7 linked regions of the Homo sapiens genome follow. The protein of the gene in region 1 purifies or fractionates together with the protein of each later gene. This does not show direct contact. Each region holds a gene or a part of one and is shown on either strand. Other genes may lie near its edges. The genes, in order: FAM241A, RTN2, TMEM245, ARL6IP5, ASPH, REEP5 and MACO1.

What was found.
Region 2: the proteins of FAM241A (region 1) and RTN2 purify together in Homo sapiens (affinity purification with mass spectrometry; one large-scale study listed by BioGRID and IntAct). This does not show direct contact.
Region 3: the proteins of FAM241A (region 1) and TMEM245 purify together in Homo sapiens (co-immunoprecipitation; 2 studies listed by BioGRID and IntAct, with this or other methods). This does not show direct contact.
Region 4: the proteins of FAM241A (region 1) and ARL6IP5 purify together in Homo sapiens (co-immunoprecipitation; 2 studies listed by BioGRID and IntAct, with this or other methods). This does not show direct contact.
Region 5: the proteins of FAM241A (region 1) and ASPH purify together in Homo sapiens (affinity purification with mass spectrometry; one large-scale study listed by BioGRID and IntAct). This does not show direct contact.
Region 6: the proteins of FAM241A (region 1) and REEP5 purify together in Homo sapiens (co-immunoprecipitation; 3 studies listed by BioGRID and IntAct, with this or other methods). This does not show direct contact.
Region 7: the proteins of FAM241A (region 1) and MACO1 purify together in Homo sapiens (affinity purification with mass spectrometry; one large-scale study listed by BioGRID and IntAct). This does not show direct contact.

The regions. Positions count from the first base shown.
Region 1 is NC_000004.12:112,148,454-112,151,953, forward strand, and holds part of FAM241A (uncharacterized protein FAM241A), read left to right. Parts: intron 1-3,500.
Region 2 is NC_000019.10:45,490,548-45,494,047, reverse strand, and holds part of RTN2 (reticulon-2), read left to right. Parts: intron 1-669; coding exon 670-888; intron 889-3,500. UniProt on the Homo sapiens protein: Inhibits amyloid precursor protein processing, probably by blocking BACE1 activity. Enhances trafficking of the glutamate transporter SLC1A1/EAAC1 from the endoplasmic reticulum to the cell surface.
Region 3 is NC_000009.12:109,109,948-109,113,447, reverse strand, and holds part of TMEM245 (transmembrane protein 245), read left to right. Parts: intron 1-3,500.
Region 4 is NC_000003.12:69,094,937-69,098,436, forward strand, and holds part of ARL6IP5 (PRA1 family protein 3), read left to right. Parts: intron 1-3,500. UniProt on the Homo sapiens protein: Regulates intracellular concentrations of taurine and glutamate. Negatively modulates SLC1A1/EAAC1 glutamate transport activity by decreasing its affinity for glutamate in a PKC activity-dependent manner.
Region 5 is NC_000008.11:61,641,593-61,645,092, reverse strand, and holds part of ASPH (aspartyl/asparaginyl beta-hydroxylase), read left to right. Parts: intron 1-460; coding exon 461-493; intron 494-1,091; coding exon 1,092-1,148; intron 1,149-1,659; coding exon 1,660-1,707; intron 1,708-2,172; coding exon 2,173-2,205; intron 2,206-3,500.
Region 6 is NC_000005.10:112,912,228-112,915,727, reverse strand, and holds part of REEP5 (receptor expression-enhancing protein 5), read left to right. Parts: intron 1-3,500. UniProt on the Homo sapiens protein: Plays an essential role in heart function and development by regulating the organization and function of the sarcoplasmic reticulum in cardiomyocytes.
Region 7 is NC_000001.11:25,437,397-25,440,896, forward strand, and holds part of MACO1 (macoilin), read left to right. Parts: intron 1-3,500. UniProt on the Homo sapiens protein: Plays a role in the regulation of neuronal activity.

The sequences.
Region 1 (3,500 bases):
TTGAGCAAAAAATGAAGGTTCTTCTGTCATTCTGGCCTGAGTCTTTCCAGGTAGGGCGATTGACAAAGGATGCCTGGTTAAAATCAAGTCACTTAAGAAAGGAGGCCTTGGGAGAATGAATCAAGTCCTGTAGATGAAGAAACTGTGCCAGGTTTGAAATAGGATCAGGTGTCTAAAGAGAGATAAGCAAGGGAAAGAAGCAATTTCAGGGAATGTCCAAGAAACTGAAGGGACAGGACACAGCTATTCCATATATGTGTTGGTAATTGTGTGTATGAGAGATGATCCAAGTATGTTCATGAGGGTGAATGCCAGGTGGCTTTATGTAAGAGTTTCTGTGCCCTGATGCATAGCTGAAAGGCTAAACATCTCTAGTCCATTATTATATGCCTTAAATGTCAATAGCATCTGCTTAGATGTGGCACAATGTACAGGTCACTCACAATCTGAAATAACCTAACATGACCCTCTTACCTAGAGAATAGGGAAGTCCCATTATCCTTAGATTGACTTTCGAATTATTAACTCTAGCTTTAACGTCTTTATGATTATAAAAGTAATGTGTGCTTTGGAAAATTAGAACTATAGAAAGATCTAAAGAAGAAAAAAGCCTTTGAAATCCCACTCTATTTTGGGATTTTGATATCAAATATTTTGATATCAAATATGAAACTTGGTATTACTACAGTATATTCATTTGTCTATGTGTATATGCATATATACACACTTTTTTTTTGAGATAGGGTTTTGCTATGTTGCCCAGGCTAATCTCAAACTACTAGCCTCAAGCAATCCTCCCGTCTCAGCCTCCCGAAGTACTGGGATTACAGGTCTGAGCCTCTGTGCCCAGCCACACATGTATTTTTAATATGTTTTAATATAAATATAATTTTGTGTCTTCTTTTACAAAAGGTTGTGTCATTTTCCCATGTTATGGAAATTCTATGTGAAAACTCTCTTTAGGGCTGCCAAATAATTCATTCCCCTAACACCGCACATTGAAGTTGCTTCAAGCTTTCTTTTATAAATCGTGCTGTCTGAAAATATTTGCTTGTAAATCCTTAAACTTCTACCCTGGTATAGATTCCTAGAAGTAGAAGAACTAGGTCAATGAGTCAAACTCTTTGAAGCCTCTTGAAACATCCTAAAGAATTTAATTCAAGAAAGGTTGTACTCATTTACACTTGCAGCACTGGTGTGTAAAAAGGCCAGTTGGAAACCATCCATGCCAGCAATGAACAATATAGTTTATAATCATTGCCAATTTCATAGGTGAAACTTCTATCATATTGTAAGCTGTTGCTGGAGAGGTTTACTAAACCATTCATATATTTATTAGGCATTTGTATTTCTTTTTAGTCATTTTTTTTCTTTTGGCATTATAAGGATATTAATCCCTTATTTTCACATTGGCTGTAAATATTTTCTCTGCTTGCTATTTACTTTATAATTTTATTTATGTTTTTTAAAATTTGATAATGCTTTGAATTTTTATTAAAGGAATTTTTTTGGTAATTTCGTATATACACACACCACTCACATGTATACACGTATCTCTTTCTATACATATTAAGAAATTTTTTCTAATCTTACAATCAGTTAAATATTTGCCTATGTTTTCTTTTGTATGTGTGCATTTATGGTTTAATTTTTTACTCTATATATTTAATCTCTTTAGAATGATTTTCTATATTGTATGAAGTATGGAGCTGATCTTTTTTTGTCCTAATCATTGAATAATGTACTTTCTGCCTTGCTTTATAATCTTTTATAGTATTAAGGATTATATTAAAGTCTGTATTAAGTTTTTATATTTTTGTTGGTATTATGAAAAGGATTTTTTCCATATCATATTTTGTTGGTGGTTTCTAGCTATTGGCTTTTATGTATTTCATTTTTAACTGGCCATCTTTCTAAATTTTTATACTGGTACTAATAAATACTAGTAGCTCTTAGACTTGATTCATTTGCATCTTCTAGGTATATAATTATCCAGTTTATAGATAAAAATAATTTTGCTTCCTTTCAAATGATAATGTCTCATTTCTATTTCTTGCCTTTGGCAATGCCTAGAACTTTCAGAACAATGCTGGCTCATAGATAAATGTAAGTAAATAAATGAAGGAACTTCTGTAACAGCATTTGCCAAAGTGTGTTCCATGAGATGATCTGTAAAAAAGAAAACAAAATGGGGGGTTCAGTGAGGGGGGTCCATGCCTTTTGATCTATCAGTAGAAATATGATTAACAGTACAGATTCTAGATCAGGGTTACCTGGGTTTGCCTTTTATTGACTGTAACTTTAGGCAAGTAACTAACCTCTCTGGGCTGCAGTTTCTGCATCTGCATAATGGGAATAATTGTAACAACTTCATAGGATTATTGGAAGGATTATATGAATTAATAATATATGAGATGTACTTAGAGCAGTCTCTGGCACATAGCTATCTAGCATGTGAGTGTTAGCTGTTAGGCCTAATTTTGGACCAAAGTCCTAACTGAAACGAAATCTGAGAAAGGCAATTTTAAGTTTTCCAGCCTCTGCAATTAGAAAACCACCTGAGGCGAAAAGCAGAACAGCATTAATATAGTTTGGGCGTTTGTTGCCTCCAAATCTCATACTGAAATGTGATCTACAGTGTTGGAGGTGGGATCTGGTGGGAGGTGTTTTGATCATGGGGGTAGATCCCTCATAAACGGCTTAGTGCTATGCCTTTGGTGACAAGTAAATTGTCGCCCACTTAGTTCACACAAGATCTGGTTGTTTAAAAGAATCTGGGACCTCTCTCCCTCTCTCTCCTTCCCTCCCTCCCTCTTGCCATGTGACACTGCCTGCTCTCCCTTCACCTTCTGCCATGATTGTAAGCTTCCTAAGGCCCTTACCAGAAGGAGATGCCAGCACTATGTTTCGTGTACAGCCTGCAGAACCATGAGCCAAATAAACCTCTCTTCTTTATAAATTATCCAGTGCTATATTGTCTGTGTCTGATTTTTTTATAGCAATGGAAACTGACACAAGTATTCCTCAACTTCAGTGTGCATAGGAATCATCTCTTATTAAATGCAGATTTTGATTCAGTTGGTTTGGAGTGAGGTCTGAGATTTTGCATCTCTACAAACTCCTAAGTGATGCTGATGCTGTGCCCATGGACCACATTTTGGCAAGGGAATGGAGAATAAGCAAGTCAATATACTGTATTCACCACACTTGCCCTTCAACATAGTATCAGTAATATATACATATGAAGTTGTTTAACTATTTTCTTAGAAGTGTATATTTAAACTCTTGGTAAAATATGAGAAGCCAATAGTTGTTCCCTAGGCCACGTTATTTGCTGTAGGTCCTACAGCTAACTCATGCTAGAGCAGACTAGAACCCAGGTTTCCGAACACCAAAGCTAGTGTTTTTTGTTTGTTTGTTTGTTTCACAAATACAAAAAGCACATTACATGATGGAAAAACAGTCTGACAAATTTTCTGCCCTACTTTAGATGGTGTAGT
Region 2 (3,500 bases), on another chromosome or scaffold:
GACGTGATATCACATCTGGCTAGACGTGATAAACTCCGCTTTTTAAAAAAATTTCCCCGGCCGGGCGCGGTGGCTCATGCCTGTAATCCCAGCCCTTTGGGAGGCCGAGGCGGGCGGATCACTTGAGGTGAGGAGTTCGAGATCAGCCTGGCCAACATGGTGAAACCCCGTCTGTACTCGGGAGGCTGAGGCAGGAGAATCGCTTGAACCTGGAAGGCAGAGGTTGCAGTGAGCCAAGATCGCGCCACTGCACTCCAGCCTGGGCGACAGAGCGAGACTCCGTCTCAAAAAATAAAAATAAAATAAAATAATCCTCCCTCTTCTGGAGTGCTCCTCCTAGTGGCTGATTTTGGACAGGCCAAATCCCTGAAAAAATACAGTTCTCTCCTTATTTAGATGTGGCCGTAGAATATTTATAAGTAAACTCTGTGCCTTTTAAAAACTCTTCTTTTTGGCCGGGCGCAGTGGCTCATGCCTGTAATCCTAAACACTTTGGGAGGCCGAGGCGGGAGGATCCTTTGAAGCCAAGAGTGCAAGACCAGCCTGGGCAACATAGGGAGACTCGATCTCTATTTGAAAAAACAAACAAAAACCCTCTTTTTCCTGACCACATCTATTGGCCAGTTGTAAAATGACCCAGCCTTACTTTAAAATATGCTCCGCCTCCAGGAACAGCTATGGAATGGTTAAAGACATCATTGCTTTTGGCTGTTTACAAGACGGTTCCAATTTTGGAATTGTCCCCACCTCTGTGGACAGCCATTGGCTGGGTCCAAAGGGGCCCCACCCCCCCTACTCCTGTCCTCCGGGTTCTACTGAAGTGGGCAAAATCCCCGAGAAGCAGCGGTGTCCCCAGCCTCTCACTCGGAGCCGATATGGGGAGTAAAGGTGGGCTTGCGGAACGGGCTGGACGGGGGCTGAGGTCGGCGGAACGGGGTCCAAACTCGCCCTTATCTCCTGCACATCCGGAGCATTTTTATTACTGATCTGCTTCCGCAGCGCTGCAGGCTGGGGCTAGGGGGCCGAGGGGCAGTATAGGGAGGACCCAGAGGGAGCATGGGGTCCCTTCTCCTTCGAGCCAGCACTTTGGGGCCCAGGAGCAGGGAGGACCCCCTCCCCCAGCCTCGGCCCCAGGCAGCGCTGTCACTCAGGGGCCAGACGGGCCAGAACAGCTGCGGGGAGGCCCCCTCCCCCCAGCGTGCCTAAACTTAGCCCCCGCCTCAGGCGACCTGGCCCCTCCCCCATCCACCGGCGCCGGCCACTAGGAGCCTGCCTGGGAGGGCCCTGCTATGGGGAGGGAGGGGCTGCCCTATTTGGAGGTAAATGAGAGGAGATGCATTGGAAGGAGACGGAAGTGAGGGGTGAGCCTCTAAGAGGGACCGGTCGGAGGGGTCAGTTGGAGGGAGTGTGGGAGGATAGAGAGGATCTGGAAAGAAATAGAAAGGTACTGAGTTCCTGGTTTTCAGGACTCAAAGGAAAGCAGATTACTAAAGTTTCTTTTTCTTTTTAAGCCACAGAGTCTCCCTCTGTCGCCCTTTCTGGAGTGCAGTGGTGGGATCATAGCTCACTGCAGCCTCCAACACCTGGGCACAAGTGATCCTCCCACCTCAGCCTCCCAAGTAGTTGGGACTAGAGCCACAGGCCACCACGCCCTGCTAATTTTCTTATTTTGTTTGTAGAGACAGGGTCTCACTATGTTGTCCAGGCCTCAGGTGATCCTCCCGCCTCGGCCTCCCAAAGTGTTGTGATTACAGGAGTGAGCCTAAAGTTTAGACAGATGAGATGAAGGTTGGGGTACAAAGGTCACTGGTCAGGGCTGAGGTTGGGTTTAGGAGGTGTGTTTTAGGGTCTCAGAAAGGGGTCAGAAATTTGAGTTAGGCCCTGGAAAGGAGTATGGCGTGATTAATACATTTAGGACTTAGAAACATGTGTTGCTAAGGGTATCAAGGGGATATCACTTTACACCTGACAGATTGGCAAAAGTTAAAAAGAACTGCAACCCACTGCAGGGCAGGATGCTGGGAAAAGATCTTTCTCTTGCTTCTTGTGGAAATAAGAACTGTTATGGTCTTACTAGTAAGCAGTGTTTCAAAATTTATGACATTAAAAAAATATATATGACCGAGCGCGGTGGCTCATGCCTGTAATCCCAACACTTTGGGAGGCCGAGGTGGGAGGATCACTTGAAGCCAGGAATTCAACCTGGGCAACATAGCGAGACCCTATCTCTACAAAACATTTAAAAATTAGCCAGGTTTAGGAGGTCGAGGTGGGCAGATCACAAGGTCAGGAGATCGAGACCATCCTGGCTAACATGGTGAAACCCCGTCTCTACTAAAATACAAAAAATTAGCCGGGCATGGTGACGGGCGCCTGTAGTCCCAGCTACTCGGGAGGCTGAGGCAGGAGAATGGCGTGAACCCGGGAGGCAGAGCTTGCAGTGAGCTGAGATCGCGCCACTGCACTCCAGCTTGGGCAACAGAGCGAGATTCTGCCTCAAAAAAAAAAAAAAAAATTAGCCAGGCCAGGCATGGCAGCTCATGCCTGTGATCCCAGCTAGTTGGGAGGCTGAGGCACAAGAATCTCTTGAACTCGGGAGGCAGAGGCTGCAGTGAGCTGAGATCATGCCACTGTACTCCAGCCTGGGTGACAGAGGAAGACTTTGTCCAAAAAAAAAAAAAAAAAAATTAGCACGATATCGTGGTGCCACCTGTAGTCCCAGCTGCTAGGAGGCCGAGGTAGGAGGTTTGCTTGACTCTGGGAGGTAGAGGCTGTAGTGAGCCATGATCACGCCACTGCACTCCAGCCAGGGTGACAGAGTGAGACTCTGCCTCTAAAAATAAAAAAAAAAAAAATGTGGCCGGGCGTGGTGGCTCACGCCTGTAATCCCAGCACTTTTGGAGGCCAAGGTGGGTGGATCACCTGAGGTCAGGAGATCAAGACCATCCTGGCTAACACGGTGAAACCCCATCTCTAACTAAAAATAACAAAAAATTAGCCAGGCATGATGGCACATGCCTGTAATCCCAGCTACTCGGGAGGCTGAGGCAGGAGAATCGCTTGAACCCGGGAGGTGGAGGTTGCAGTGAGCCGAGATTGCACAATTGCACTCCAGCCTGGGCAACAAGAGCGAAACTCTGTCTCAAAAAAAAAAACAAACAAACAAACCAAGGTCAGGCGTGGTGTCTCACGCTTGTAATCCCAACACTTTGGGAGGCCGAGGTGGGAGGATTACTTGAGGTCAGGAGTTCGAGACCAGCCTGGCCAACATGGTGAAACCCCATCTCTACCAAAATATAAAAAATTAGCCGGGTGTGGTGGAGCCCTCCTGTAATCTCAGCTACTCAGGAGGCTGAGGCAGGAGAATTGCTTGAACCCAGGAAGCGGAGGTTGCAGTGAGCCAAGATTGTGCCATTGCACTCCAGCCTAGGCAATAGAGCGAGAATCCGTCTCAAAAAAAATAAAAACAAAAACAAAACACACACACACACACACACACA
Region 3 (3,500 bases), on another chromosome or scaffold:
ATAAGTTTGGAAAAATATGCCCTCTTATCTGTAACTGTGGCTCATTGATTTAATGCCTGGAATAAAATTCACACTTGAATAGGTTTGCTCAGAGGCTAAACATATATAAAGTTGACTTGTTAACCTCATGTTTCCGTGTTAGTGAAGATTTAAGAATTAAAAAACTCCTAAGAGGTCCTAGACTAGAAATTGTGTGTGAAACATGCATGTACAAATCCTTATTTTTGTTATTTTAAAGGATATTTAGTGATTCAAAATGTTGACCCAAGTAAAATATGCTTGTTACATTTGAAAAAACATAAGCAGAACAGAAGTTTGTATGGTAAAAGTGAATTATCCCTTTCCTTCCCCCGCCCTGCCCCTGGCCCCGCTGAGATGGAGCCTTGCTCTGTCACTCAGGCTGGAGTGCAGTGGCTCGATCTTGGCTCACTGCAACCTCTGCCTCCCGGGTTCAAGCAATTCTCCTGCCTCAGCCTCCCGAGTGGCTGGGACTACAGGCATCTGCCACCATGCCCAGCTAATTTTTGTATTTTTAGTAGAGACGGGGTTTCACCATGTTGGCTAGGCTAGTCTTGAACTCCTGACCTCATGATCTGCCCATCTTGGTCTCCCAAAGTGCTGGGATTACAGGCATGAGCCACCGCGCCCGGCCGAATTATCCCTTTTCTCTACCACTATTCCCACTATTCAGATGTTACTATTAACTGCTTGATGTAAAGGCTCCTAAATTCATTTCTTTGTCCATGTGAACATATAAAGTAGAAGGTTTTTGTTTTTTGTTTTTTAAAACAAAGATGAGATAACATACATATAGCTCTGTACCTTGCTCTTTTCATTTATCATTGTACTGTGGCCATCTTTCCTTATTAGCACTTAGAGATATACGTCTTTCTTTTTTTTTTTTTTGAGATGGAGTTTTGCTCTTGCTGCCCAGGCTGGAGTGCAATGGTGCAATCTCGGCTCACTGTAACCTCCACCTCCTGGGTTCAAGCGATTCTCCTGCCTCAGCCTCCCAAGTAGCTGGGATTACAGGCACATGCTACCATACCTGGTTAATTTTTGTATTTTTAGTAGAGAAGGGGTTTCACCACATTGGCCAGGCTGGTCTCGAACTCCTGACTTCATGTGATCTGCCCGCCTCAGCCTCCCAAAGTGCAAGGATTACAGGTGTGAGCCACTGCCCTGGCCACTTTTTTCTTTTTAATACTGCTACAGTATAAATCTTTTTTCTCCCCCTCCCCCACCATGCCTTTTAGAAAATGTTTTCAACAGATTTTCTTAGCTCTGAATTTGTATTAGAATACTTTGATAAACATTTTTAACCATTGGTAATTGTATAATCATAATGGGCTTAATATAAACTCTAAAGTGTTTTTATAAATGGCCTTACCTCTTGAACTAATATTACTTCTGCGAATCTTTTCTGAGGAAACACTTCAAAATACTGGAAAAAATCCAGAAGCCAAAAGAATTTCCTAAAGGTTAAAAATACTTCTTTTTCTGTTTATAAAGATACTACATAACCTTAGTAGAAAATTGAGCACCTGTAATAAAACATAAAGAAGCAGATTACTCCTTGAAATCTGCCATCTAGAGATAATATTTTAAAACATTTTTTGTTGAGTATATTTTCACCATTATAAATTTACACACGAATAAATTGACACTGTAGCACTGTATATTGATGTTCATCATACTGTTGAAAGTCTGACTAATTACTCAATTTTTGGAGATAGCATTATTTAAACAGTTCACTATAAAATGATATTTAAGTTCTCAATTTTTTATATTGTAAATGGCAAGTGAATATTTTTATATGTGTCTGCACAGTGTGCTTCTGTAAAACACTCCTAAAAGTAGAATTGGGGAGTATATTTTAAAATGGTTATTTTAAACTGGAATGAGGTAATCTGTGAGTTTCAGGTTGATAGATGAAAATACATGCTTCTTGTTAGACAATAAATTTCTCTTAAAAAATCTGAAGTATGCAGTCTCTTATTTTTTCTCTCCTTGCAAATGATACTAATTCCTTATGCATACAGATAAGAAACAAAAACTTCTTGGAGGTACTGTATAAATTGTGACCTCCAGTTCAGCTTCTTACTAAGGGTAGTACTTACTTTGTCATCTCTGTTCAACGTTTGCTCAAACACTTTTAGTAATGATTATTCCATTTGTAGATAGCTATAGTTTATTGGAAAAACCTGTCCTTTTACTGAGCTGTGTTATTTCCTAATTCCCACGTATTTCTGCTCTCAGAACCACAGAAAATCAAGTCTTATGCCTCTCCCAGATGACATTTTAAAAATTATTTGAAGATAGCTACAAAATCTTGATATTTCCTTCTCTTTTCTGAGCAAAACTTTTTTTTTCTTTTTCCCCTAGCTACATTTATATTATCATGTTGTGATTTCTATTTCCTTTCCCAGGCTGAATTTTGTTGTGTGGTTTGGTAGCGCAAAATTAATTGAAACAATCACTTTCCCTGATACGAGTATTGTACTTTTAGAAATAAGTGCTTCTACTAGTCATAGGCTGACTCATACTGAACTGAAAAGTGGTTCAGATGTTCTCTTTCCATTCCATACTTGTACAGTTGAGTTTTGAATCTCGAAGCAGAACTTTGCATTTCTTTTCATATAGTTTAATCTTGTTTGGATTAGCCCATTGTTCTGGCTTCAGGATATCTTTTTGAATCATGATAGATTATCTCAATATTTATTGACAACTCAGTTTTGTATAACTGATTTGTGTAAAATCAGTTTTTTCTGTTATTGTGCCTCTAGTCTTTCATCTAAGTGACTGACGTAATGTTTAATAGGGTGGGGCTAACTGACGTACCTCTGAAGACTATCCATTTACTGTGGATTTTTTTTTAATTTCAACAAGTTGTAGTTGTCTAAATTGACTGTTTTTATTTTCCCTTGTGAAAATCTGAGCAGCTTTTGCTTATCTTTAGTATTCTAGCACCATGCTTCTTTCTCCTTAAGATTAGAAAAGTGCACTCTGGAGCCAGATTCCTGGGTTCTAATCCTGCCTCTGTCATTTATTGGCTGTGGCCTTGGGCAAGTCACTTCTCTGAAATCTGGGTTTCTTTCATGTGTAAAATGAGGATCATAATAATATTATTTTGTGGGGTTATGAGGATCAAATGAGTTAGTATACATAAAGCATTAGAATAGGGCCTGGCACATAGGAGTGTTATATAAGTGTACTATTATTGTACTCAGATTTTTTTCTATGCTCTGCAATCAGATCTCAAATTCTTTGAATTCCCAGGGTTAATTGGTCTGGTCCAGCAAGACTGGACTTTTTGAAGCAGCTGTAGTCTCACTTCCCATGTCCTCATATTTTTGAGCTTCAAAGCTCTTTAATATTTCATCTGATAGAGTTACTTGAAGAAATATTTTAATGTCCTTTTTATTATAAAAGAATTAGTGCTTATTAAAGGCAGTCTGGAAAATACAGAAAAAAGTGAAAGGAAAAACAAAATTTTACCA
Region 4 (3,500 bases), on another chromosome or scaffold:
GAATCACGTTGGGAAGTTTAGGACCTGTATCCACACCCACTAATAGCCACCTTGTTTCAGAGAGAAATGAGAGTGCAGAGGGATTTTCCAGGATGATCCTTGGTTATAGTAGGTTACTTAGAGTGTGGGGGAAATCCTTAAAGCCGGTTAACATGACAGAATGGGTTCTACTGTGAGTTGCTGCCACAACTGGCACCCTTGTTTTCTTGTTTCTCTCCTGGATCCCTTTGGATATGTTTCTTCTCTGGGCCTCAGTTTAGTTATCTGTATAATTGGACTAGACTGATTCATCTTTGAAGACTGCTACAAAATTTCTGTGATGGGATTCTAAACCTTTTTATAACCATAAATGACTGCTCTAGAATGTGTAACTATTATAGGGAAAGATTTATTAATTATTTATTGGAATTGGGTAATACATGTTCATATTTTAAATATATATAATTAAAATATATACAAACATATGTATTAATATATTTTTAATTTCACAATAGAAAAACATAACGGTTTTTGAGTTGCAAAACTAGGTCCTGCTGTTTCTCCCTTCTTTCTCACCATCCCTCGTTCTTTTTTTTTTTTTTGAGACGGAGTCTGGCTCTGTCACCCACGCTGGAGTGGCACAATCTCAGCTCACTTCAACCTCCACCTCCCAGGTTCAAGTGATTCTCGTGTCTCAGCCTCCTGAACAGCTGGGATTACAGGCATGCGCCACCACGCCCAGCTAATTTTTATGTTTTTAGTAGAGATGGGGTTTCGCCATGTTGGCCAGGCTGGTCTCAAACTCCTAGCTTCAGCTGATCCACCCACCTCAGCCTCCCAAAGTTCTGGGATTACAGTTATGATCCACCGCACCCAGCCCTCTTTCTTACTCTAGGACTATCAGTAAGTGAAACTCCACCCAGCAGACCACAGAGGCAGCTGTCTACATGAAAGATGGGTGGCATGTTTATGGAAAGTTTTGTCCTAAAAGTCTTTGGGGTTTGTCGTGATTGCTGTGATAAACAGCCCAACTGTTGACTAAAAAGCATCTCAGGCAAGAACTGGTTCCCAGATTTCTGAGAATTTCTGTTAATCTGTAGAGGGTGTGTGTGTGTGTGTCTGTCTGTCTGTCTGTCTGTCTTTTGTTCCAAATACAGGTAAGTGCCAGGGCATTGGAGTGGTATACATTTTATCAGATACAGAAGAAAATAATTTCTGCTCAGAGTAACTTCGTTAGTTTTTTTCCAGCTTGGAAACTTGCTTGCTTTCTAATTATAGACTGTTGTTGGGCAGGTTATGAACTAAAACCAGTTCTATAGAACTTCAGGCTCTGTTCTTTTCTCTTGGACATGAGCAACCAGAACAGGTGAAACAAATTTGGAATTGCTTGAGTTAGGCCTGGATTTTTCATTGTTCCTTGTCCTGGACTTTAGGCACTCAACCTAAATATGTATTTTACTTGTCTAGAGGAAAATAAAAACAGCTTGACATGAATTTTGTTATATGCTTCACTTCATGAATTATTATTTTAATAAGTATTCCAGAATGAACTGAGTAGGAGCCCTTTGATGCTTTGCTGCCAGCCAACCCACTCCTACTTGCAGGGTATGCAAAGGAATTTCCTTGAATTTCAATCCTCCATTTGAGTTCTTTGTGTTGATTTGATCTTTGTTTTGCTTTGCTTTTTTTTTTTTTTTTTTTTTTTTGAGACGGAATCTCGCTCTGTCACCCAGGCTGGAGTGCAGTGGCACAATCTCGGCTCACTGCAGCCTCCGCCTCCCGGGTTCAAGCAATTCTCCTGCCTCAGCCTCCCAAGTAGTTGGGATTACAGGCACATGCCACCAAGCCAGGCTTAGTTTTGTACTTTTAGTAGAGACGGGGTTTCACCATGTTGACCAGGATGGTCTTGATCTCCTGACCTTGTGATCCACCTGCCTCAGCCTCCCAAAGTGCTGGGATTACAGGTGTGAGCCACTGTACCTGGCGATCTTTGTTTTTCTTTACGGCTCAGAAGAAACATTTGGGTAGGTTATAGGTCAAAGTCAAGGCTTTGTAAAGGGTTTTTTACATTCAGGAGCCTTTCCCCAATTTCATTTGTTCATTTTTAAATACCAATTTTTTTTATTCATCAAGGAATACATGGCCATTGAAAAAAATATGAAAATAAAAATAAGCAAATGGAAATAAACTCCCCTTATCCTACTATACTGTAGTCTTTGGTATAATTTTTCAGTTTCTCTAAGTATCTTTTTATTTTTTAATTGAGACAGGATCTCACTCTGTTACCCAGGCTAGAGTATAGTGGCACCATCACAGCTCCCTGCAGCCTTGACCTCTGAGCTCAGATGATCCTCCTACCTCAGCTTTCCAAGTAGTGGGGACTATAGGTGTGTGCTGCCACACCTGGCTAATTTTTGTGGGGTGTTTTTTTTTTTTTTTGGAGAGATGGGGTTTCGCCATGTTGCCTAGGATGGCCTCAAACTCCTGGGCTCAAGCGATGCATCCGCCACCTCGGCTTCCCAGAGTGCTGGGATTACAGACATGAGCTACCACACTGGCTTAGAATCTTTTGTGATGCTGGGAATTAGATAATATTAATCTATAAGAGTTTCAAGGCCTCTTCATTCACTCTCCACTCTCTACAACCTGCTGAAGGGGATTGTGGTTTTGATTCATCAGATTCTTTCCTTCCTCAGGCGTATAAGGGAATTTTTTCTTTCCCAGACCAATTCCGGGGTTGTCTCAGAAGACAGGGCATAATCCAGATAAAATAAAACAGAAAGAAAGTGCAGAGAGGCCAAGTAGACCCAGGTAACACAGAACCAAGAGGGAGGGGAAGAGGGCAGAGAGAATAGCACATGTGCTGGGTATTGGGGAAGGTTGGGGCACTGGGGTGCTATAGACTGGCACAAGAGGATCTGGAGGATGAGCAGAAAACCAGGATTTGGATTGGAGAAGGAACAGCTTCGCTGTGGTTCATGAACTGAAATTCCATTAATGTTGTTGGCGAGATGGGACAAGTAGAGATGGACTTTTGTGGTTGGTCTGTGCCAAGCGGCGGTTGTGGGTTGGAGAGCAGCTGCTTTTATGTTTTTGTATTTCCTTTTTTATATATTCATTTTATTTCTGATTATGAAATAATATACTAATTATAGAAATTTCTATTTCTTTTTTTTTTGGAAACAGAGTCTCACTCTGTCACCCAGGCTGGAGTGCAGTGGCGCAATCTCGGCTCACTGCACCCTCTGCCTCCCGGGTTCAAGTGATTCTCCTGCCTCAGCCTACCAAGTAACTGGGACTACAGGTGCCTGCCACCATACCTGGCTTTTTTTTTTTTTTTTTTTTTGAGACATAGTTTTGCTCTTGTTGCCCAGGCTGGAGTGCAATGGCACCATCTCGGCTCACTACAACCTCCGCCTCCCAGGTTCAAGCAATTCTCCTGCCTCAGCCTCCGAGTAGCTGAGATTACAGGCTCCCGCCACCGAGCCCAACTAATTTTTTGTATTTTTAGTAGAGACAGG
Region 5 (3,500 bases), on another chromosome or scaffold:
GTTAAGTGTTCAACACATTTACCCTTCAGCTCCCTAAGGGTATAAAGCCTCTTCAGCTGTTTTTCTCTGTTCCCATCCATAGTTGCTGTACTTTCGCTCTAGAAAATGGTAGGACAGGTCGAGGAGATAGCACATTCTAGTGGGTTGTGAAGTGGATTAGAAATGAACGGCTTTCCTGGTCTGGCCTGTGTCACTCTAAGTTGTCCTCTCTCTTTAGTCCAGGGGGTGGTGGTTGTCAGCCTTGTGGGGATGAGTGGACTGAGAAGGAGAATGTGTGAGACATCCCACAGTGTACTTCTAGTGAAATATAAAAGTGTTAAGCAGACTTTTAATTGATAGTCCCATTTTTTAATTTTTTAAATAAAATTAATGATAAGCATAGATTCAGAGTACATATACGGGATATATACATACCATTTTGTAAAAGCAGTAAATATCAATCTAATTTTTTTTTTTCCAGAAACCGAGCATAGTTACCACGTGGAAGAGACAGGTGAGATTTTAATTTAATTCTGTTCTTAATTAGAGTGAGTCTTCCTTTAAAAGGGCATCATAAAATACATAATATCTATTATTAATGATATATTTAAATTAATATATGCAAGATATGCAATTAATAATTTTATTACGTCTTATATTTATGGTATTTCTTTGTGAATATACTTTTTTGTGTTTTGATGCCTAGTTCCTGAGGATAAATTTTCAGTAGGATTACTAGTTCAAAAGATACAATTGAATTGCATGTTTTGTACCTTTCAATTACAGAGTCAACGAAAGGTCTAAATCATGTTTTGTCACATGCCAGCGCCCTTAAAGGGCATGGCCACAGGAGGTGGGCGCATCATCTGTCAGCACTTTACTGTTTTGCGGTTTGAGTGTAAACCAGTTGATGACAGGCCCCCCTTACTCATCTTTGCATTTGGCATTTAACACACTTAATACCTATTTGTTTCAGGAGTGAACATGTTTGAATATCATTATGACTTGATTTTGCATTTCAATCATAACTAGAAATTGTGTCTTTCTGGTTTCGAATATTACATGTATTCCTTATTTGAGACGTAATTTCCTAATTATTCCATAATTTATAGTTTCACAAGACTGTAATCAGGATATGGAAGAGATGATGTCTGAGCAGGAAAATCCAGGTTTGTAAATGTTAAAATTATTGATATGTGTTTTCTGATTGAGGCAGTGGCCAAGGCCGTTTTATTCCAGGGTTAACAATTGTGATTCAACACAGAGATCCCTGTATGGTATTTATAATCACTTTTGATTGGTCAGATGTTTATAGAAATGTCTGAATATAGTTTAATACTACATAGAGGGATGAGAGAAAAAGGAGACGTATTTTTCAAACCACTGTTGAGACTTTGGTCTTTGTAGGTAAGGTGCTGGAAAGAATATTTGAAAATTGAAGGGGCAGTATGATGTACTATAAAGTCATTCTGGGTACAAATCCCATTTCTACTCTTTCCTATCTTTTTGACTTAGGCATCAAATTGTGGAACGTTATTCAGCTTAAATTTTATTAAATGATAATGAAAACATCTATCTGGCAAAGTTGTGAAGATAATTAATTTATGAATCTCCTAGAATGCTGTCTGGCAATGTGTTTGGTTTTTTCCTGTTTGGCAAAGGTGTGTTTTTGTTTTTTAGATTCCAGTGAACCAGTAGTAGAAGATGAAAGATTGCACCATGATACAGGTATTAGATGAGCATTTTCATTAGATTTAAAATATTACCTTAGATTTTTCAATCACATGCTGTGTTTACATGGTGATTTTTCTTTTAAAGGCATCAAAGAAGTAATTTCGACATCTAATGCATGAGATTTTGTTTTATAACAAAGTTAGACTGTTATAAGAATATCAGGCTTTCATATTTCACCTCATCAACTAACCATTCCATAACAAAACAGGATGTCAAATTTTAATGCTGTTTTTGTGTATCAAATTCCTCTGTGCCAATTTGAGAAATTTTAATGAAAATAATTTACCTGCCTTTTAATTGCTTTTGGGCAGAGGCATTTATTATTGACTGAGCAGACATTAATATTTGAAGGAGTAGAGTTCTGTGTTTACGATTAAGTAGTATTTTGTTTTAACTGAACAATTGTATAGAATGACTCAGTTAATACTTATTTTGCTTTTATTCTCTTTTTTTTTTCAGATGATGTAACATACCAAGTCTATGAGGAACAAGGTTTGCAAATGCTTTCTTTTTTTTTTTTTTCTTTTTTTTTTTGAGATGGAGTTTCGCTCTTGTTGCCCAGGCTGCAGTGCAGTGGCACAATCTTGGCCCACTACAACCTCCGCCTCCTGGGTACAAGCGATTCTCTTGCCTCAGCCTCCTGAGTAGCTGGGATTACAGGCATGTGCCACCACGCTTAGCTAATTTTGTATTTTTAGTATTTTAGGGTTTATCTCAAACTCCCGATCTCAGGTGATCCTCCCGCCTTGGCCTCCCAAAGTGCTAGGACTACAGGCATGAGCCACTGCGCCCGGCCTGCAAATGCTTTCTAACCTTAAGCCACCTTCTTGTTTTAAAATATACCTATAGTTTGACTACAAGATGTGGAACATTATGCTTTAAACTATAAACTTTGCAACTTAAAACATCCAGATGAACGGTAGCGTTCAAAGAATTCACTTGGGGAGACTGTTTACCCATTCCACGGCTTCTGCCATTGCCTAAATAATTTCTTAAACTCTTTACAAGTTGCCTTAGGAGGCAGTTACAGTCATTCAAGAAAACCAATCTCAGTACTTTATAGTTGTGTCTCTTTTGACTAAAATATGCATGAACAACTACTTTAGCCGGAGTTAAATTGCTCTAGCTGCTTCTACAGGTTAATCCCACTCTCAAAGATGACTGATTTGTCACCTTGGGGAAGGTTAAGAAGCACTGTGTTCCAGGCTTAAAGGCAGTATGGAGAAAACAGTTCTGGCAAATTTGTGGCATCAGCAGCATCTGATTCAGTTTAGGCCTGTACCTCCCTCCTCTTGTGTCCAAGCATTGCATAGACTATTGTGTTGAACTCCATGAAGTAGATTTTATTTTCCCTGCTTCCCAGAGGACAGAAATAAGGTTCTGACATTATAAATAAGCTGCCCAAGAATGTATGGCTAAGAAGTAATAGAACCAATAATATATCCTTTTTATTCCATTATCCTCAAAGATGATTATGTAGAAAGAGAGAAGTCAGTTGGGTATAACTTTATGTGTAAAGCAAGAACGATGAAGAAATACATCGTAATTGAGTTGGTGGATATGGAGGACTTTCTATGTTCTAGATGGTTTTAGGGCCTGGAATTCAATTATGAGTAACATAGGGTCCCTCCTTTCAAGGAGTTTACAGTGTCATGATAGATAGTGAATCACAATTGAAGAAAATTAGGAGTGTTTATAAATATGAATCATATTTATATGATGATTTAAGATTTGAGACCCTACCAAGTTCATCATCTATAGTGGCTATTTCTAATGGGATATGAATG
Region 6 (3,500 bases), on another chromosome or scaffold:
GCGCTTTGCCTTCTGGGGTAGTATGAAGCACAAGCCAATGTGGCCTTCTGGCCGATGTGCACTTGGATAAAAAATATAACAGGCATTCTGCAAACTGTGACTTAAGCAATTTACTTAAACATTTAAATCTTTAATTTACTTAATTTAAATCTGAAATCTTAAGCATTTAAACATTTAACCTTCCTCAACTTTTTTACTGTCCTTGTTTCACTTAACATTACTGCTAAGAGTGCTGGACTCTTTTAAGATGAAAGTGTTGTGGAGAAATGAAAAAGTAATAAAAATATCCTTATAACAACTTGTGACTATTTTGTAAAATAATGACAGCCAGCGTTTCAGTTAAGGTTCGCCCGCTTGCCTGTGTCATAAAGAAAATAAAGTTTTAAAAAGCAAATAAGATGAATGATTTAAATTATTTATTCATGATCAGAGTTTCTGGGCTCTAAAGCAGTTGTGGAGGAGGATCTCATTTCTAATACTCTATTCTGGAATGTTCCTTATGAGCTTTTTTTTTTCTCTTTATGAAGGCCCTGGAGATTTAGTCTATTTGTCCTTCTTTCTGTCGTAGCCTCCCTCATCTCCTTCTGACCTGGACTTCTCTTTTTCAGGACTGACTTTGAATGAGGACTCAGTTTTCAACTTAATTTTTTCACATGGCATTTAAAACAAGTATAAATACAAATATAACATGTTAAGGTATTTAGTGGTGATTCATAACATTAACAATTAATTTTGGGGAAGTATGAATTAATATGGCAGAAGTTTTAAAACAATTTCAAAATTGTGAATGAAATTACTTTTTGTAGCAGCTGAAATATAAGTGGGGGCTGTAGAAACGTACCCTGACTTCATTCTGTCACTTGCACACTTTCCTGATTCCAGGGAGTGGAGCTTATCAGTCACTCTGAGTCATGTGTCTACTATATATATCCTGCAGCCTCTGATAGACCAAGTGATCTAGTTAAGGGATCGCTCACTTGTCTAGACTGCGGTCCGCATCTAAGGTGGCCCTCCTTTACCTAGGAAAAGGCAGCTTAGGTTGTTCCCCTTCTAAGTTGTGAGGTTACTTGAGATTAAGTTAAACTTTATGATACCAATCTGACACAGATACTTATAGAACCACTGGTTTTATTGACAAAGGGTTGTCCCAGTGGGATTTGCATCTGCTCTTTTATTGCTCCTGGCATTAATCTTTTTTACCATCAATCATTCAAACAGTTTTTTTGGGGGGACAGGCAGGGAGGCTGAGATGGGTGGATTGCTTGAGTTTGAGACCAGCCTGGACAACATGGCAAAACCCCATCTCTACAAAAAATACAAAAAATTAGTACACGCCTGTAGTCCCAGCTACTCCAGAAGCTGAAGTGGGAGAATCACCTGAGCTTGAGAAAGTCAAGGCTGTGGTGAGCTGTGTTGATGCCACTGCACTCAGCCTGAGTGACAGAGTGAGACCCTGTCTCAAAAAAACACACACACACTTGGGAGGCTGAGGAAGGAGAATTGCTTGAACCCAGGAGGCACAGGTTGCAATGAGCCGAGATTGCGCCACTGCACTCCAGCCTGGTTTTTTTGAGTGTGTTTTTTTTGAGACAGGGTCTCACTCTGTCACCCAGGCTGAGTGCAATGGCATGAACACAGCTCACTGCAGCCTTGACTTTCTCAAGCTCAGGTGATTCTCCCACTTCAGCTTCTGGAGTAGCTGGGACTACAGGTGTGTACTAATTTTTTGTATTTTTTGTAGAGATGGGGTTTTGCCATGTTGCCCAGGCTGGTCTCAAACTCCTGGGTGCACACACACACACACACAAACACACACACATTCAGTTTTGAGTTATAAAATGTTAGCTAAAAGGGGTCTTAGAGACTAAGCTGCTAGGGTGATAGCCACCTGTAACAGATGTGGAAATCAAGGCCACAAACTGAAGTTAATTGACATAGGTCACAGGTGTGTTGGGACCAATTCAGTCTTAAGTGTAGGGATGTCTGTCCACATTCCGCATTGTTATATTTGACTGTGACTGACTCTTCCATTTTGCATTTAAAAACAAAATGGTGGATAGTGGTAAATGAGATCACTGTAATTAAACACCAAAAGATTTGACCACTGAATGACTGCATTTTTTTCTTTATACTTCATTATAGGTATTCTATAGACTCATCTTAATTTTTTTTTTTTTTTTTTTTTTTTTTTAGCCAGGGTCATACTCTGTCACCCAGGCTGCAGTGCAGTGGTGCAATCATGACTCACTGCAGCCTTGACCTCCCAGGCTCTAGCTATTCTCACTCCACTGCCTCTGTAATCTTTTTTCTTTTCTTTTCTTTTTTTCTTTCTTTCTCTTTCTTTCTCTTTCTTTCTTCTTTCTTTCCTTTCTTTCTTTCTTTTCTTTCTTTTCCTTTCTGTCTGTCTGTCTTTCTTTCTTTCTGTCTTTCTTTCTTGATGGAGTTTCCCTCTTGTTGCCCAGGCTGGAGTGCAGTGGCGCAATCAGCTCACTGCAGCCTCCACCTCCCGGGTTCAAGCGATTCTCCTGCCTCAGCCTCCCAAGTAGCTGGGATTACAGGCATCTGCCACCAATTTTTTGTGTTTTTAATAGAGATGGGGTTTCACCATGTTGGCCAGGCTGGTCTTGAACTCATGACCTTAGGTGATCCATCTGCCTTGGCCTCCCAAAGTGTTGGGATTACAGACATGAGCCACTGTGCCCGGTCAGTCTTTCATTAGTCTTTCTCGTACTGTTTGTTGGTTTTCTCTCTTGCTTTAAAAGCACATATACTCTGCAGTGAAAAAGATATGTAACTTTCTGATCACGCATAGTTTCCTGCCTTCTTTTTTTCTATGAAGGAGAAAAATATTTTCCTTATTGGCATGGAAACGAACTAGTGTTTATGTCTTAAAATGTCTGATTCTTTTTTCCTTCTTATTTGAGGTACTGATAATAGGAAAACCATTTTGAATTACTAAGAATTCCTACATCATACTCTCTGATAAATACAGCCAAAAGCAATCCCATGCATGGTGGGCATGGAGGATGGTCAAGTTATGTGTCTGCCATAACAAAAAGGATTATAAACATTATGGTCCATGTTCTTCATATTCAATTTCCAAAGAACCTATCTTAACCTCTGGAATATTTGCTATTAAACATAAGTTACCACATTAGAAATAAAATATAAAGCAGATGGACCAGAAGATGATTCCTTTCTGTTCTTTACCAATAGGACATCTTAAAGCTTTTTATCCATATATATGGATAAAATTAAAATATATATGGGTATAAATGGATATATAGATATATTTTAATGAACTGCTTTTTTTTCCACACTGTCAGTCTCTGGTAAATAGTTGATATTGGTACAACTGGTTTGAATAATAAAGCCAATGCTGTGAAGACATACTATTACTTAATTTTATGTCATTTGGCTAGTTTGAATTGTAGCAACTGAGTTACTTATGAACCATGCACAGAACACATAGTATGTACCTATGTGTCTTAGGTGTGAGT
Region 7 (3,500 bases), on another chromosome or scaffold:
GCCACTCACCTTGACCTCTCAAAGTACTGGGATTATAGGCATGAGCCACCGCACCCACCCAACACTTTTAAAAACCAAATAAATAGCTGAGTACTAAAATCAGTACTTTGCCTATCTTGTAGCAAGAATAGTTGAACATTAAAGAGAATGAATACTATGTTCATGTCCAAAGTAAGGATTCCTGTCTCAGAAAAGAGAGATACTGTCTGAGGCTTGAGTCGTCTTGCTCAGATGTAATAAGAATTTTTGGCCGGGTGTGATGGCTGTAACCCCAGCACTTTGGGAGGCTAAGGCAAGAGGATTGCTTGAGTCCAGGAGTTCAAGACTAGCCTAGGTAACATAGCGAGACCTCATCTCTACTAAAATTCAAAAAAATTAGCTGGGTGTGGTGTCACATTCCTGTAGTCCCAGCTACTTGGGAGGCTGAGGCGGGAGGATCACGTGAGCCCAGGAGTTTGAGGCTGCAGTGTGCCATGATCGTGTCACTACACTCCAGCCTGGGCAATAGAGCAAGACCCTGTGTCAAAAAAAGAGAATTGGCTGGGCGTGGTGGTTAATATAATCCCAAAGTGCTGATATTATAGGCGTGAGCCACCATAATCAGCCCCCAATTTAAAGGAAAAAAAAAATCTAGAATGGAAATCGCTAAAAAAGGTTTTCACGGTTTTGTAGTATAACATTTTTATAAAGGTCTGTATAGACCACAGAGATATCAAGGACAGGTATTGTAACCTAATGCAGGTGGTGAGTTTTAGAATTTCTGTTTCAAGAATACTTTTAACAGTGTGGAGTCTATGGGGTTGAGGAAGGGGAGGGGTGAAGAAGCATAGGCGGAGAGAGAAAACAACTCACAGGCTCTAAAAAAACCTGTTAACATTATATAAACATTAGAAATTCATTTCATAAGGGAATCAAAATTATGCTTCATATAATTGATAGTAATAATCTGCTTAATCACACCTTACATTTCTGTCTTACTTGTAACTTTTCCAAATGTTTTCATATTATCTCATTTTATCCTCACAAGTGTGAAATAGGCAGAGTAGGTATTGCCATTTTATAGGAAACAAACCTGAGGAATAGAGAACTAAAAAGCTGCAAGGCACTATTGAAAGAGTACAGAAACAGAAGTTAGGAGACTGCAGAGAACAGTGTAAATTCTATGTGGAACTCTATGTTGCTGCTAAAATGGATAAGGGAAATTCTATATAAAGAAGTGGACATGACTGGGCCCCGTGGCTCACGCCTGTAATCCCAGCACTTTGGGAGGTCGAGGCGGGTGGATCACCTGAGGTCAGGAGTTCAAGACCAGCCTGGCCAACGTGGCGAAACCCCGTCTCTACTAAAAATATAAAAATTAGCTGGGCGTGGTAGCATGCGCCTGTAATCCCAGCTACTTGGGAGACTTGGGAGAACTGCTTGAACCCAGGAGGCAGAGGTTGCAGTGAGTCGAGATTGTGCCACTGCACTCCAGCCTAGGCAACAGAGTGAGACTGTCTCAAGAAAAATAAAATAAAATAAAAAACTAAAAAAAAAAGAAGTGGACATGTCAAACAGAAACCTGTTTTTGTTAAGAAAGAAACACATTTGTTTATATAGAAAAAGCAAATTATATTTATGAATTATATAACAGCAATCATCTTGGGGCAGGACTACTAAGGGCTTTTATATTATACATTATATTACCTTTTTAATAACAAGTATGTGTTGCTTCTTTTTAACTTCTCATTTTGAAATAATTTTAGATTTAATTAAACAGAAAAGTCACAAAAATAGTACAAAGTACTTACACCTTAGTGAAAGGCATAAGATACCCTATTTATTTATTTATTTATTTTTAAAGAAAAAAAATAGCCAGGCATGGTGGCTCTTGCCTGTCACCCTTGCTACTTGGGAGGCTGAGGTGGGAGGATCGCTTGAGCTCAGGAGTTGGAGGTTGCAGTGAGTTATGATCACACCACTGCGCTACAGCCTAGGAGACAGAGTAAGACTCTGTCTCTGAAAAAAATAAACAAACAAAAAAGGGCATATTTCACACTGTTAGATTTGTCATTGCAGTGGCTGCACATGTACGCGCGCGTGTGTGTGTGTGTAATTGACACTAGAAAGGTTCCCTTTGCAGTATGCAGGAGGCCTAGAATAGAAAAAAGAAATATAGAACAGCTTGGTCTTCTCAGCCTGCTCCCCTTTTTTGGATTTTATACAAGGAGGTGCCTGCAGAATGCAGCAGTGGTTCCAGTTTATTTTATGTTAAGGCTCACACACAAATTTCTGTTTTTTTTTTTTTTGTCAAAAAATTTTTTTGTCTCTGGATCTCTTTACACTCTTAAAAATGATTGAGGCTGGACACTGTGGCTCACACCTGTAATCCCAGCACTTTGGGAGGCTGAGACAGGTGGATCACTTGAGGTCAGGAGTTTGAGACCAGCCTGACCAACTTGGAGAAACCCCGTCTCTACTAAAAATGAAAAATTAGCTGGGCATGGTGGCGCATGCCTGTAATCCCAGCTACTTGGGAGGCTGAGGCAGGAGAATCACTTGAACCCAGGAGGCAGAGATTGCGGTGAGCCGAGATCGTACCATTGCATTCTAGCCTGGGCAACAAGCGAAACTCTGTCTCAAAAAAAAAAAAAAAGATTGAGAATATCACAGAGATTTGGTTTATATGGATTATATCTATCAATATTTACTGTATTAGAAATTAAAACTGGCTGGATGTGGTGGCTCATGCCTGTAGTCCCAACACTTTGGGAGGTCAAGGTAGGAGGATCACTTGAGCCCAGGATCTTGCTATGTTGACCAATCTGGGCAACATAGCAACATCCCATCTCTACAAAAAAAAAAAAAAAAAAATTAGCCAAGCATGGTGGTATGTGCCCGTAGTCCTAATTACTCTGGAGGCTGAGATAGGAGGATCACTTGAGCCCAGGTTGAGGTTGAGGCTGCAGTGAACTATGATTGTACCACTGCACTTCAGCCTGGGCAACAAAGGAAGACCCCAGTTCTGGGAAAAAAAAAAAAAAAAGAAGAAAGAAAAAAGTTAAAATAGAAAAATTTAAAACATTAGTTCACTTAAAAGTACCAATAAATTGCTGAGCACAGTGGCTCACGCCTGTAATCCCAGCACTTTGTGAGGCCAAGGCAGGCGGATCACCTGAGGTCAGGAGTTCGAGACCAGCCTGGTCAACATGGTGAAACCCCATCTCTACTAAAAATACAAAAATTAGCCAGGCATGGTGGTAGGCACCTGTAATCCCAGCTACTTGAGAGGCTGAGGTGGGAGAATCACTTGAACTGGGAGGTAGAGGTTGCAGTGAGCCAAGATTGCGCCATTGCACTCCAGCCTGGGCGACAGAGTGAGACTCCATCTCAAAAAAAAAAAAAAAAAAGAAAAGTAACAATAAATTAATAAATTCATGAGAAGACTGGTGTGGTTTTACATTTTTGCATAGCTCTTTAGTGTCTGGCTTACTAGAAGATACTTTGAGAACCACCGCTGT